Regions from separate parts of the Homo sapiens genome. Here region 2 is linked to region 1. The links come from fine-mapping of genetic effects on plasma protein levels. Region 1 holds a variant in brackets. A gene starts in the other region. All regions are shown on their forward strands.

Evidence for each region. PIP is the chance, under the fine-mapping model, that this variant and not a neighbour inherited with it causes the effect. The UK Biobank Pharma Proteomics Project read protein levels with antibody pairs (Olink). The fine-mapping took linkage between variants from a reference panel, not from the people measured, so its PIPs are less certain.
Region 2: SLC39A5 starts here. The variant in region 1 is fine-mapped to the plasma level of the SLC39A5 protein (UK Biobank, PIP above 0.99).

The regions. Positions count from the first base shown.
Region 1 is chr7:73,588,425-73,596,954 of GRCh38, forward strand. It overlaps MLXIPL (MLX interacting protein like), which reads right to left. Exons shown (of 17, transcript NM_032951.3): 10 at 8,441-8,508; 11 at 8,215-8,365; 12 at 7,940-8,055; 13 at 7,729-7,848; 14 at 7,418-7,545; 15 at 7,213-7,336; 16 at 5,850-5,979; 17 at 4,778-5,559. The coding sequence ends at 5,441. Among named protein-coding and RNA genes, the nearest start is that of TBL2, 14 kb to the left of the region's middle. RefSeq lists an enhancer at 1-147. The variant C/CA (reference allele first, on the strand shown) is at 4,333.
Region 2 is chr12:56,226,466-56,230,499 of GRCh38, forward strand. SLC39A5 (solute carrier family 39 member 5) reads left to right here and starts at 3,586. Exons shown (of 13, transcript NM_173596.3): 1 at 3,586-3,657; 2 at 3,775-3,830. NABP2 (nucleic acid binding protein 2) reads left to right here. Exons shown (of 7, transcript NM_024068.4): 7 at 2,549-3,389. The coding sequence ends at 2,748.

The DNA.
Region 1 (8,530 bases):
TGCCTTCTTCTAACTCTGAATAATAACTATATATTATATATATTATAATATATAATTATATATTATATTATATATTATATTATATATTATATATAATTTATATGATATATATTATAAATTATATATATTATCTATTATATATAATTATATTTATATGTATTTAATACGTATATATAATTATATTGTATATTTATAATATATAATTATATATTACATATTATATATTATACATATATACTATATTATAATTATGTATTTATATCGTAATATATAATTATATTAATTATAATATATAATAAATTATATTATATATTTATAATATATTTATACATTATAAACAAATATGTACTTTATTTGTTAAAGTATATATTATATATAATTTATAGATAAATTAGATATAAATTAAATATAATATATTTAACTTATATATTATATATAATCTATATATTATAAACAATATATTTTATATATTTATATATTTATATTTATTATATATTTATATTATAAATGTATTTATATTATAAATACATTTATAATATAAATATAAAATACATTTATAATATAAATACATTTATAATATAAATATAAAATACATTTATAATATAAATATAAAATACATTTATATTATAAATATAAAATACATTTATATTATAAATATAAAATACATTTATATTATAAATATAAAATACATTTATATTATAAATATAAAATACATTTATATTATAAATATAAAATACATTTATATTATAAATATAAAATACATTTATATTTATTAATATAAAAATAAAATATATTTATATTTAATATAAAAATAAAATATATTTATATTTAATATAAAAATAAAATATATTTATATTTAATATAAAAATAAAATATATTTATATTTATTATAAAAATAAAATATATTTATATTTATTAATATAAAAATAAAATATATTTATATTTATTAATATAAAAATAAAATATATTTATGTTTATTGATATAAATATAAATATATTTATATAGTTTTATTGATATAAATATAAAATATATTTATATAGTTTTATTGATATAAATATAAAATATATTTATATAGTTTTATTAATATAAATATAAAATATATTTATATAGTTTTATTAATATAAATATAAAAATATATTTATATGGTTTTATAAATATAAAAATATATTTTTATAAAATGTAATATATTTATATATTATAAATATAAAACTATATAGTTATAAAATGTAATATATTTATATATTATAAATATAAAACTATATATTTATAATATATAAAGATTATATATAATATATAAAGTATATTGTATATAAAGATTTATATAATATATAAAGTATATTGTATATAAATATTATATATAATATATAAAGTATATTGTATATAAAGATTGTATAGGTTATACAAATTGTAATATATAAATTAATGTAATATTATATATTATATATAAAGATTATATAGATATGGCTGGGCGCAGTGGCTCACGCCTGTAATCCCAACACTTTGGGAGGCCAAGGCAGACGGATCACGAGGTCAGGAGATCGAGACCATCCTGGCTAACACGGTGAAACTCCGTCTGTACTAAAAATACAAAAAATTAGCCAGGCGTGGTCGTGGGCAACTGTAGTCCCAGCTACTGGAAGGCTAATGCAGAAGAATGGTGTGAACCCGGGAGGCGGAGCTTGCAGTGAGGTGAGATCCCGCCACTGCACTCGAGCCTGGGTGACAGAGCGAGACGCCGTCTCAAAAAAAAAAAAAAAGATTATATAGATATATAGATTAACATATAATTATTTAATCTTTATTCTCTATATAAAAATTTATATATAATCTATATCTTTATATGTAGAATATATATTAACTCATACATATTTTATATAAACTATAAATATAATATAATATATAAAAATATATTAAATATAATGTATAAATATAATCTTTGTATATTATTAAACATAATATACAAACATAATATATATATAATATATAATTATTATCCCCATTTTACAGATTTATAAATATATGTATAAATCTGTAAATCTCTATATGTGTATATTTACCCTTTTAGGTTCTCACAGCAAGCCTACGAGGTAGGTGTTGTGAGGATTAAGTGAGTTAATATACATAAAGTGGCCAGGTGTGGTGGTTCATGCCTGTAATCTCAGCACTTTGGGAGGCCAAGGCAGGAGGATCCCTTGAGCTTGGGAGCTGAAGACCAGCCTGGGGAACTTAGTGAGAACTTGTCTCTACTAAAAATAAAAATAACAACAACAACAAAAATCTAAAGTGCTTATAGGAGTGCTTGGCACATAGTCCATACTAGATCTGCGGGCAGCGATTCTCCTTCTTCTTATGCACGAACGAGAGAAACTGAAAACCTATGGAAGATACTTTAGGCTGTTTAAATCCTGCAAATGGGCCAGGCACGGTGGCTGCCACCTGTAATCCCAGCACTTCAGGAAGCCTAAGGCCAAGGTGGGAGGATCACTTGCGGTAGGGAGTGTGAGACCAGCCTGGGCAACATAGCAAGACCCTGTCTCTATGAAAAATAAACATGAATACATCAGTCCTGCAAATGTCTCCAGAAGGTCTGAAACGTGAGAGGATTCCAACATGCCAGGCTGGAATGTCAGCTCCACAAAGAGAGAGATACTGTAGTGAACAGCATCTGCAGAGCCAAGACCACAGCCTAGTCCATAGCAGGCACTCAGTAAATATTGGGGCCTCTGAGGCCTTCTACCCCAGCCCCATCTGAAGGATCAGTTTTTTTATTTTTTGTTTTTATGTTTTTTTGAGATGAAGTCTCACTCTGTCACCCAGGCTGGAGTGGAGTAGCGCAATCTCTGCTCACTGCAACCTCCACCTCCTGGGTTCAAGGGATTCTCCTGCCTCAGCCTCCCGAGTAGCTGGGTTACAGGCACCTGCCACCATGCCCGGCTAATTTTTTTTGTATTTTTAGTAGAGACGGGATTTCACCAAGTTGGCCAGGCTGGTCCGGAACTCCTGACCTCAGGTGATCTACCCGCCTCGGCCTCCCAAAGTGTTGGGTGGCGTGAGCAACCGCACAGGCCGCTGTCAGTTTTTTCTAAGACATCCCAACTAAGTGGCCATCCACTCTCTGCATGCATACCTCTCATAGCGGGGAGGTCACTACCCTCCATACCTGCCCCGCCAAGGGAGCACATTCTCCTTCTGGGTGGTTCCAGTGGATGCCCTGTCGGTTCCACTCCTTGGTCCCAGCTCTGCCTTCTTCCAACTCTGAAGGTAGCGAGCCTCTCCAAACTGTCTCCTGGCCATGGAGGGAGGAGCTCCAGGAAGCAAATCTATCACCTCTCACCTGGATGACTGCAACTGTCCTCTAACTGGTCTCCCTGCATCCACCTAGTCTCAACTCAGCACCCAGGGGATTCCTGTAAAAAAGTTACATCTGGCCAGACGCCATGGCTCATGCCTGTAATCCTGGCACTTTGGGAGGCCAAGGCGGGAGCATTGCTTGAACCCAAAAGTTCAAGACCAGCCTGAGTAGCTGGGATTACAGGCGTGTGTCAGCACATGTGGCTAATTTTTGTATTTTTAGTAAAGACCGGGTTTTGCCATATTAGCCAGGCTGGTCTCGAACTCCTGACCTTGTGATCCGCCTGCCTCGGCCTCCCAAAGTGCTGGGATTACAGGCGTGAGCCACCACACCCGGCTGCTGACTCTATTCTTATAAGAAAAATTTTTTTGTCTGGGCGCGGCAGCCTCACACCTGTAATCCCAGCACTTTGGGAGGCTGAGGAGGGCAGATCACAAGGTCGGGAGTTCAAGACCAGCCTGACCAACATGGTGAAACCCCGTCTCTACTAAAAATACAAAAATTAGCTGGGCATGGTGGTGCGCACCTGTAATCCCTGCTACTCAGGAGGCTGAGGCAGGAGAATCGCTTGAACCCGGGAGGCGAAGGTTGCAGTGAGCCGAGATTGCGCCACTGCACTCCAGCCTGGGCAACAGAGCGAGACTCTGTCTCAAAAAAAAAAAAATTTTTTTTTTTAAAGTTACATCTGGCAGGGCGCGGTGGCTCACGCCTGTAATCCCAGCACTTTGGGAGGCTGAGGTGGGTGGATCACAATCGTGGTCAGGAGATCGAGACCATCCTGGCTAACACGGTGAAACCCCGTCTCTACTAAAAATACAAAAAAAAAAAAAATCAGCTGGACGTGGTGGCGGGTGCCTGTAGTCCCAGCTACTTGGGAGGCTGAAGCAGGAGAATGGCATGAACCCAGGAGGCAGAGCTTGCAGTGAGCCGAGATCGGGCCACTGCACTCCAGCCTGGGTGACAGTGCGAGACTCCGTCT[C/CA]AAAAAAAAAAAGTTACATCCGATTTTCTTTTATTTATTTTTCTCTTTTTTATTACTGAGATGAGGTCTATGATCCTCCCGCCTTGGCCTCCCAAAGTGCTGGGATTACTGGTGTGAGCCACTGTGCCCAGCCTTTTTTGTTGTTGTTATTTGAGACAGGGTCTCACTCTGTTGCCCACTCTACAGTGCAGTGGTGCTATCATAGCTCACTGCAGCCTCGAACTCCTGGGCTCAAGCGATCCTCCTGCCTCAGCCTCCTGAGTAGCTGGGACTACAGGCGCTCGCCACCACTACATCTGATCTTGTCCCACCTCCACTCAAAGCCCTCCAGCTGCTTCCAGCTCAGAGTAAATGCCCAGGCCCTCTGCAAAGCCACTTCCCACTGCCAACAGGCTCTCTCTCCATCCCAGTGTGAGACACTGACCAGCACACCAACAAACCAGCAGACAGTTTTTGCTTTTATTGGTCAAGAATTCTTTACAAAACCCACACACACACATCCACACACACACACACACATGATGCCTGCCCTGCTGTGGTCACTCTGGCCCTGGTGTCTCCTGGGATCAGGCCCTCCTGGCCTCTCCCAGGGGAAACCATCCTGCAGCCCCTCTGGGTCAGCAGTGAAGGAGCAGAGAGAGGGAACCTCCTTTTCTGCTTCTCTGCTCAGGAACAGAGGTCTGTGCCCCACCTGTCGGGGAGCAAGTGGAGGTGACAGAGAAACAGCATCCTCCTCTTTCCACCGTTGAGCCCCCGGAGTTGCCAGCCTAGGCCCCCAATGTCACAGCTGCCAAGGCCTGGGGGTCATCTGCTGATTGAACCTTCCCCATCCCCATTTTGCAGATTGAAACACAGCGGTCCAAAGACAGCGGACGAGTCACCCAAGGTCACGGTGCTGGAGCACAGTGGCAGAGCAGGGACGGGGACTCTGCTCTTCTTGACCTCCAGGAGGTGGCAAGTGTGAAACCTGGACCCTGCTCCACCCCCCAGGGAAGGGCAGAGCCAGGGCCTGGGGCAGGAAGGGAGTGCCCAGAGATGATCCCTGGAGCCCGTGCCCAGGGAAAGCAGCCCCCAGGGCAGCTGAGTGAGCAGCAGGGTCTGGCCAGGACTATAAAGGTTTGCCAAGGGTGCCCTCTGTGACTGCCCGTGTGGCTTGCTCAGGGATGCGGCCCGGGTCGGTCAGGATACTGGTAGATGTGCCCAGCTGGCGTAGGGAGTTCAGGACAGCTGGGTGGGAGACAGAGAGAGAGAGACAGACACTTCCTGGGGTCAGGGCCCTACCCTTGGATGTGGAACCAAAGGGATAGGGGGAGGTATTAGTTGGCAAGACTGTCACCCCCTCCTAGAACCTCTGTCTACAGGCGTCTGGTGGCCAGAGGACCATCTGGGGGATGCGGGGTGGCCACAACCCTAGGCTGTGTTGATGGCAAGCTGGATGTGGGATCTAAGCAGGGTGGAATGCTCCCTCCACCCCCGAGGCTGGGTCCCTCTAGCAGGCAGGGAGATGGCTCACGTACTTGGCCGGAGAGCGGGCAGAGAGCAGTACTGGTCCAGCCAGGCCAGTGAGGTCTGGCGGAGGGTGTGCACACTTGCCGTGGACACCATCCCGTTGAAGGACTCAAACAGAGGCCGGATGAGGATGCTGAACTGGGCCCAGGTCAAGGAGCTGCCTGTGGTCCAGCTGGTCCCCCCACACCACGTGGAGCCCTGATGCCCAGTTCAAACCAGGGGAAGAAAGGGCCTGGACACTGTCTAACGTTGAACCCCAATGACTCATGTTGCAGCCCCTACTTCTTCTTTTTTTTTTTTTGAGACGGAGTCTCGCTCTGTCACCCAGGCTGAAGTGCAGTGGCACGATCTCAGCTCACTGCAACTTCTGCCTCCCAGGTTCAAGCAATTCTCCTGCCTCAGCCTCCTGAGTAGCTGGGATTACAGGTGTGCGCCACCACACCTGGCTAATTTTTGTATTTTTAGTAGAGACGGGGTTTCGCTATGTTGGTCAGGCTGGTCTCGAACTCCTGACCTCGTGATCCACCCACCTCAGCCTCCTAAAGTGCTGGAATTACAGGCGTGAGCCACTGTGCTCGGACTTTTTTTTTTTTTTTTTTTGACAGAGTCTCACTCTGCTGCCCAGGCTGGAATGCAGTGGCACAATCTTGGCTCACTGCAACCTCCACCTCCCAGGTTCAAGCTGTTCTCCTGCCTCAGCCTCCCGAGTAGTTGGGATTACAGGCACATGCCACCACGCTTGGCTAATTTTTGTATTTTTAGTAGAGATGGGGTTTTGCCATGTTGGCCAGTCTGGTCTTGAACTCCTGGCCTCAAGTGATCCACCTGCCTCGGCCTCCCAAAGTGCTGGGATGACAGGCGTGAGCCACCGCACCTGGCTTGCAGTCCCTACTTCTGTCCTGCCAAGACCTTCCCAGCTCTCTGCCTCTCAGTCCCCTCCTCCTTGCCCCTCCACGGCCCTTACTGTGTGCTGAACCATCCCCCATCCCTGAGCTCCCTGCCTGGGCTCAGTCAAGAACTTGACCCCTGAGCCAGATCAGGGAGTGGATTCCAAGTCTTCTGTAGTCCTCACTCCAGAGTTCAGATTCTCCCAAACTGCCCTCGGGGCTTCCTGAGGTCAGGGCCAAGGCTCCCCTTACCCAAGGACTCCTCCCTCAGTTTCCCTCTCTGCTCCCAGCCCCCCATCCCTGGGCAATTTTGCTGGCCAAGATGGCCAGGGCATGGAAGCAGGGGGCAGAGCCAGAGCCTGTCACCTGGGAGCAGCTCTGAGCCTGCCCGGCCTGGAGAGCTAGGCCTCCATCCCAGGCCCAGCCTGGTCTCACCCTGCCACAGCCCCTGCAGCCCCCCAGCCATGGGCTTGAGGGAGGATACCACCCAGAACTTCCAGTTGTGCAGCGTACGGGTTCGGACGTAGTCATCAAACATGTCTCGCATCTGGTCAAAACGCTGGTGTGTGATGGGTACCCCTGTGGCGGGCAGCTGCTGCTGGCACAGGCTGGGGGCAGGGCAGGGGTCAGGGGCTGGGGGTAAGGCGGCATGGCCCCCTGGTCCCAGCACCCGCCTGGACCCTGCCTACTTAATGGCGGCATTGAGCTCCTCAATCTCATCCCGCAGCTGCTGGGCCTCCTCCTGCAAGCCCGCACGCTCCTGCTGTAGCATAAGGATGTACTCAGCTGTCTTCTGCAGCGTGGTAGCTTTGCTCACCTGCAGACGCCACCAGGGGGGCTCAGGCAGGTGCTAGAGGCTGTACCCTGGGACCCACTGAGGCACTGGGATGGGAGGAGGCAAGAGTGTCTGGAGCACTCCCCTGCAATTGAGTTTTGGGTGGGGGGGGTCCAGAAAGGGGCCCTGTGGTTTTGGGGGTGCCAGCCTGGGCCCGGGGCTCACCTTGAGGCTGGGCTGGGCACTGAGTGTGCTCACGAGCCCATGAAGGGTGTCAAACCCCAGCTTGATGTTGAAGCGCCGCTTCTGCTCCGCGGAGATGTGTGTGATACGCCGGTTCTCGGTCTCGGGGAGCAGAGAGTTGGGTGAGCCTAGGAAGGAGCCCAGGAGGGCCTGGGGGTAGCAAACCGATCTTGGGGTGGGGGATGGTGCCCACCTTGTTGCTGTCTGGACGGCCCCGGCTGAGGATGGGTTGCGGGGGAGAGACACGGACGCTCAGAGTCCCAGGGCCTGGCATGGAGCTGAGGTCCCCTGACAGCCGCCGTTCACTGCCTGTGGTAGGGACAGACAGACCCACAGAAAGACCGACCCAGGGGAAAGGGTCCCCATTGCCCCCTTCCTCTCATCTGGCCCCAGACCCAGTCCCCTTCTTCTTCCTCCTCTTCCCCTCATCCCCTAGATTCCCCCAATCCCTGCAACCCCTCTCTTTACCGCTGGGCGCTGGGGGTGAGAGCCGCTCCGCTTTGGGGACAAGCAGGGGCCTGGAAGGGGCCAATGTGGCCGGGCCTGGAGGTGGCCGGGGCGGTGTAGGGGCCGGGGTCGGGGGAAGGAATGTGCAGGGGAATTCAGGGACTGTCTCCTGCTGGGGTGGAGAAGGGCGGAGAGTCGGGTTGAAGGCCGTGGGCACAGCCCCACCGCCCAGTGCCCGAGATCTTACCGGGGACCCTGGGGACCGGAGGAGGGTGCTGGATACAAGTGGTGGCTCCAGGGCTTGCTCCGGCTTAGCTGTGCACGGGCAGAACCGTGA
Region 2 (4,034 bases), not on the chromosome of region 1:
CTCCTCAGCCTAGAAAGATGCATTTCCCTCATTCCTTTTCCAAATCTCTCTTTTCTCAGTGTATCCTCCTTCACCCAATTCTCCCAGACCCCTTTTTTTTTTTTTTTTTTTTTTTTTGAGACGAAGTCTCGCTCTTGTCAACCAGGCTGGAGTGCAATGGCGTGATCTCGGCTCACTGCAACCTCCGCCTCCCAGGTTCAAGTGATTCTCCTGCCTCAGCCTCCCAAGTAACTAGGATTACAGGCACCTGCCACCATGCCCGGCTAATTTTTTTTTTTTTGAGATGGAGTCTCTGTCACCCAGGCTGGAGTGCAATGGTGTGACCTCGGCTCACTTCAACCTCTGCCTCCTGGGTTCAAGTGATTCTCCTGTCTCGGCCTCCTGAGTAGCTGGGATCACAGGTGCACGCCACCATGCCCTGCTAATTTTTTGTATTTTAGTAGAGACGGGGTTTCACCATGTTGCCCAGGCTGGTCTCGAACTCCTGAGCTCAGGCGATCTACCCACCTCAGCCTCCCAAAGTGCTGGGATTACAGGCGTGAGCCACCGCGCCCAGCCATGGGCTGCAGATATCTTAGTCCAGTGGAGCAGCAGGGTTCAGTAGAGATATGGTTTAAGAACTAGACTGGCTGGGCGCAGTGGCTCATGCCTATAATCTCAGCACTTTGGGAGGCCAAGGCTGGCAGATCACCTGAGGTCAGGAGTTCAAGACCAGCCATGGCCAACGTGGCGAAACCCCATCTCTATTAAAAATACAAAAATTAGCCAGATGTGGTGGCAGGAGCCTGTAATCCCAGCTACTTGGGAGGCCGAGGCAGGCGAATGGCTTGAACCTGGGAAGTGGAGGTTGCAGTGAGCTGAGATCATGCCACTGCACTCCAGCTTGCGCGACAGTGAGACTCTTTCTCAAAAAAAAAAAAAAAAGAACCACTAGGCTATAACTTCCATGCCATTTAGGGTTCATAGTCCCTACTGTATGCAAGAAGCAAACCTCTGCCTTCATATAACAAATGTTTCTAGAGCACCTACTATTTGCCGTGGAATAAAACACACTACCTGCCTTTAGGGGCTTGTGGTTTATACAGGAGAGAGATAATGATTATAATACGCCATGGTTAAGTTCAATGACAGTGGTATGTCCAGAGTTGTGAGAGCTCAAACAAATCATCCCACACACCTGGCTTCAAACATTGAAAATATAAGCCAGACGCAGCGGTGCACACCCATCATCCTAGCTACTTGGGAGGCTGAGGCAGGAGCATTGCTTGAGCAAGGAGTTTGAGGCTGCAGTGAGCTATGATCACACCACTACACTCCAGCCTGAGTGACAAAGTGAGACCTCATCTCTAAAACAGTAAAAATTAAAAAATAAATATTTATATACACAAAAATGTGACTTGTTATTAGCTTTGGTGGGTAAGATTACGTGTAATAATCTTTTCACTAGCTGGGCGCAGTGGCTCGCGCCTGTAATCCCAGCACTTTGGGAGGCCGAGGTGGGTGGATCACCTGAGGCTGGGAGTTCAAGACCAGCCTGACCAACATGGAGAAACCCCATCTCTACTAAAAATACAAAATTAGCCAGGCGTGGTGGCTCATGCCTATAATCCCAGCTACTCAGGAGGCTGAGGCAGAAGAATTGCTTGAACCTGGGAGGCGGAGGTTGTAGTGAGCTGGGATCGCTCCATTGCACTCCAGCCTGGGCAACAAGAGCGAAACTCCAACTCAAAAAAATAAATAAATAAAAAATAATAATAATCTTTTCACTGATGGTTATCTATATTTTCTAAAATGAACATTATCATTATCGTACACTCATACACACCTTTTTTTTAAGTGCCTCATATTTTAACGCAGAGACTTCAGGCCCTTCCCCTTGCCATGCTTCTCCAGTTTTATAATCACTTTTGGTGAAGGGGCCTTTTTTTTTTTTTTAATTGAGAAGGAGTCTCACACTGTCACCCGGGCTGGAGTGCAATGGTGCAATCTCGGCTCACTGCAACCTCTGCCTCCCAGGTTTAGGCGACCCTCCTGCCTCAGCCTCCTGAGTATCTGGGATTACAGGCGCCTGCCACCACACCTAGCTAATTTTTTGTATTTTTAGTAGAGACGGGGTTTCACTATGTTGGCCAGGCTGGTCTCGAATGCCTGACCTCGTGATCCACCCGCGTCAGCCTCCCACCGTACTGAGATTACAGGTGTGAGCCACCACGCCTGGCCCAGTAAAGGGGCATTTTTGTCAGAGGTCCCTGAGCCTAGAACTAAACAGCTAATTCTAGGTCTGATTCCCAATAATAGTGAGATAACTACAAGAGAAAAATACCGTACCGAGGTTCATGTAGCAACTTCCTAAATGATCGTGTAAGTCTTCTCTGGAGCTCCATTCATACTCGCAGCCCACAGTCTTTTGCATTTGGTCCAGTTGGCATTAAGATGCAGTTGTGCATGGTGAAGACTGTGCCACTCTTTGGGGCATGGAGACAGGCCTTGGGATGGACCCCTCTCCTATGTTAACTAATTCCTTTGTTTCTTCTCCTCCCACAATTAGCCTCTGAGAACCAGAATGGGAATGGACTGAGTGCCCCACCAGGTCCCGGTGGTGGCCCACATCCCCCTCATACTCCCTCCCACCCACCCAGCACCCGAATCACTCGAAGCCAGCCCAACCACACACCTGCAGGCCCGCCTGGCCCTTCCAGCAACCCTGTTAGTAACGGCAAAGAAACCCGGAGGAGCAGCAAGAGATAGCATGACATTCTTTCTTCCTGCCACCAACCACATCCCAAGTGTCCCCTGGAGAGCAAGATAGCCTTCCACTGATTGGCTGGTGTAGCAGTATTTTAGCCACTGAACTTCAGTGGAGGGTGGTGAGCAGTGTCCTTATCCACCCTAATCTCATACTCCCTCATTGTCCAGCTGAACTACCTGTCCCCTGGGAGTCAGGACCCTCTGCCTGCTCTCTTTCCTCTTTAGAAATGGCAGTTACTGGCTGGGCGCAGTGGCTCACGCTTGTAATCCCAGCACTTTGGGAAGCCGAGGTGGGCGGATCACCTGAGGTCGGGAGTTCAAGACCAGCCTGACCAACATGGAGAAACCCCGTGTCTACTAAAAATACAGAATTAGCCAGGCATGGTGGCGTATGCCTGTAATCCCAGCTACTTAGGAGGCTGAGGCAGGAGAATCTCTTGAAACCGGGAGGCGGAGGTTGAGGTGAGCCGAAATTGCACCATTGCACTCCAGCCTGGGCAATAAGAGCGAAACTCCATCTCAAAAAAAAAAGAAAGAAAGAAAGAAAGAAAGAAAGAAATGGCAGTTACCATCTGTTTCTTCTGTGTGAGACATGGGAGTCTAACTGAAGTCTCTCCTTCCTAATAAATGTTACCACTCTACTCTGTGTTGGACTCCTTTGCTTTCTGTGGGAAAAGGAAGAGGTTAGCAACTAGGCATTTGGGAAGGTGGGGTGTCCCTAGAAGGTGGAAGGAAAATAGGTTACAGGTAAGGAGGCCCAGGCAAAGCAGACCTGCCCCTTTAAGGTAGTGTCCCTCCCCTACCCCCTCCCTGCAGGTGACCCTTGCCCGCCTGCCTGCCTGCCCCCCCAGCTGGAACCAAGAAGGTTGTGTCCCCCTTCCTCTGGGTGTCCTTGTCTCCTGCTATCAGGTAATGCCAACCTCAACCCCCTGGACCAGTCACCCCGATCAGACTTTGCTTGCCTGATTTTAGGCCAGGTCAGACATCAGAGGAGAGCCCAGATCCTTGTTTCCTCTCCCCCCGCAGGGCTTCCCCTTTCTTGGTCATCGATCCCTAGAGCTCTGGCTCTTTCTCTTCTTGGGGTGAGAAACTGCTAAGAACAGTTTATTTCCCATGCATGCATCTGGGCTTGCCACTGATCTGCCTTTTCCCCCCTCCTCCCCAGGTTAGGGACACCTGGGTCCAACCTTCCCAAGGAATATGGGGATGGGGGTTGGAGATGAAGTTTAGTGCTAGACTGTAAGGTAGGTGGGGTGGAAGTACATGAGGGAAAGGGCTAAAATGGT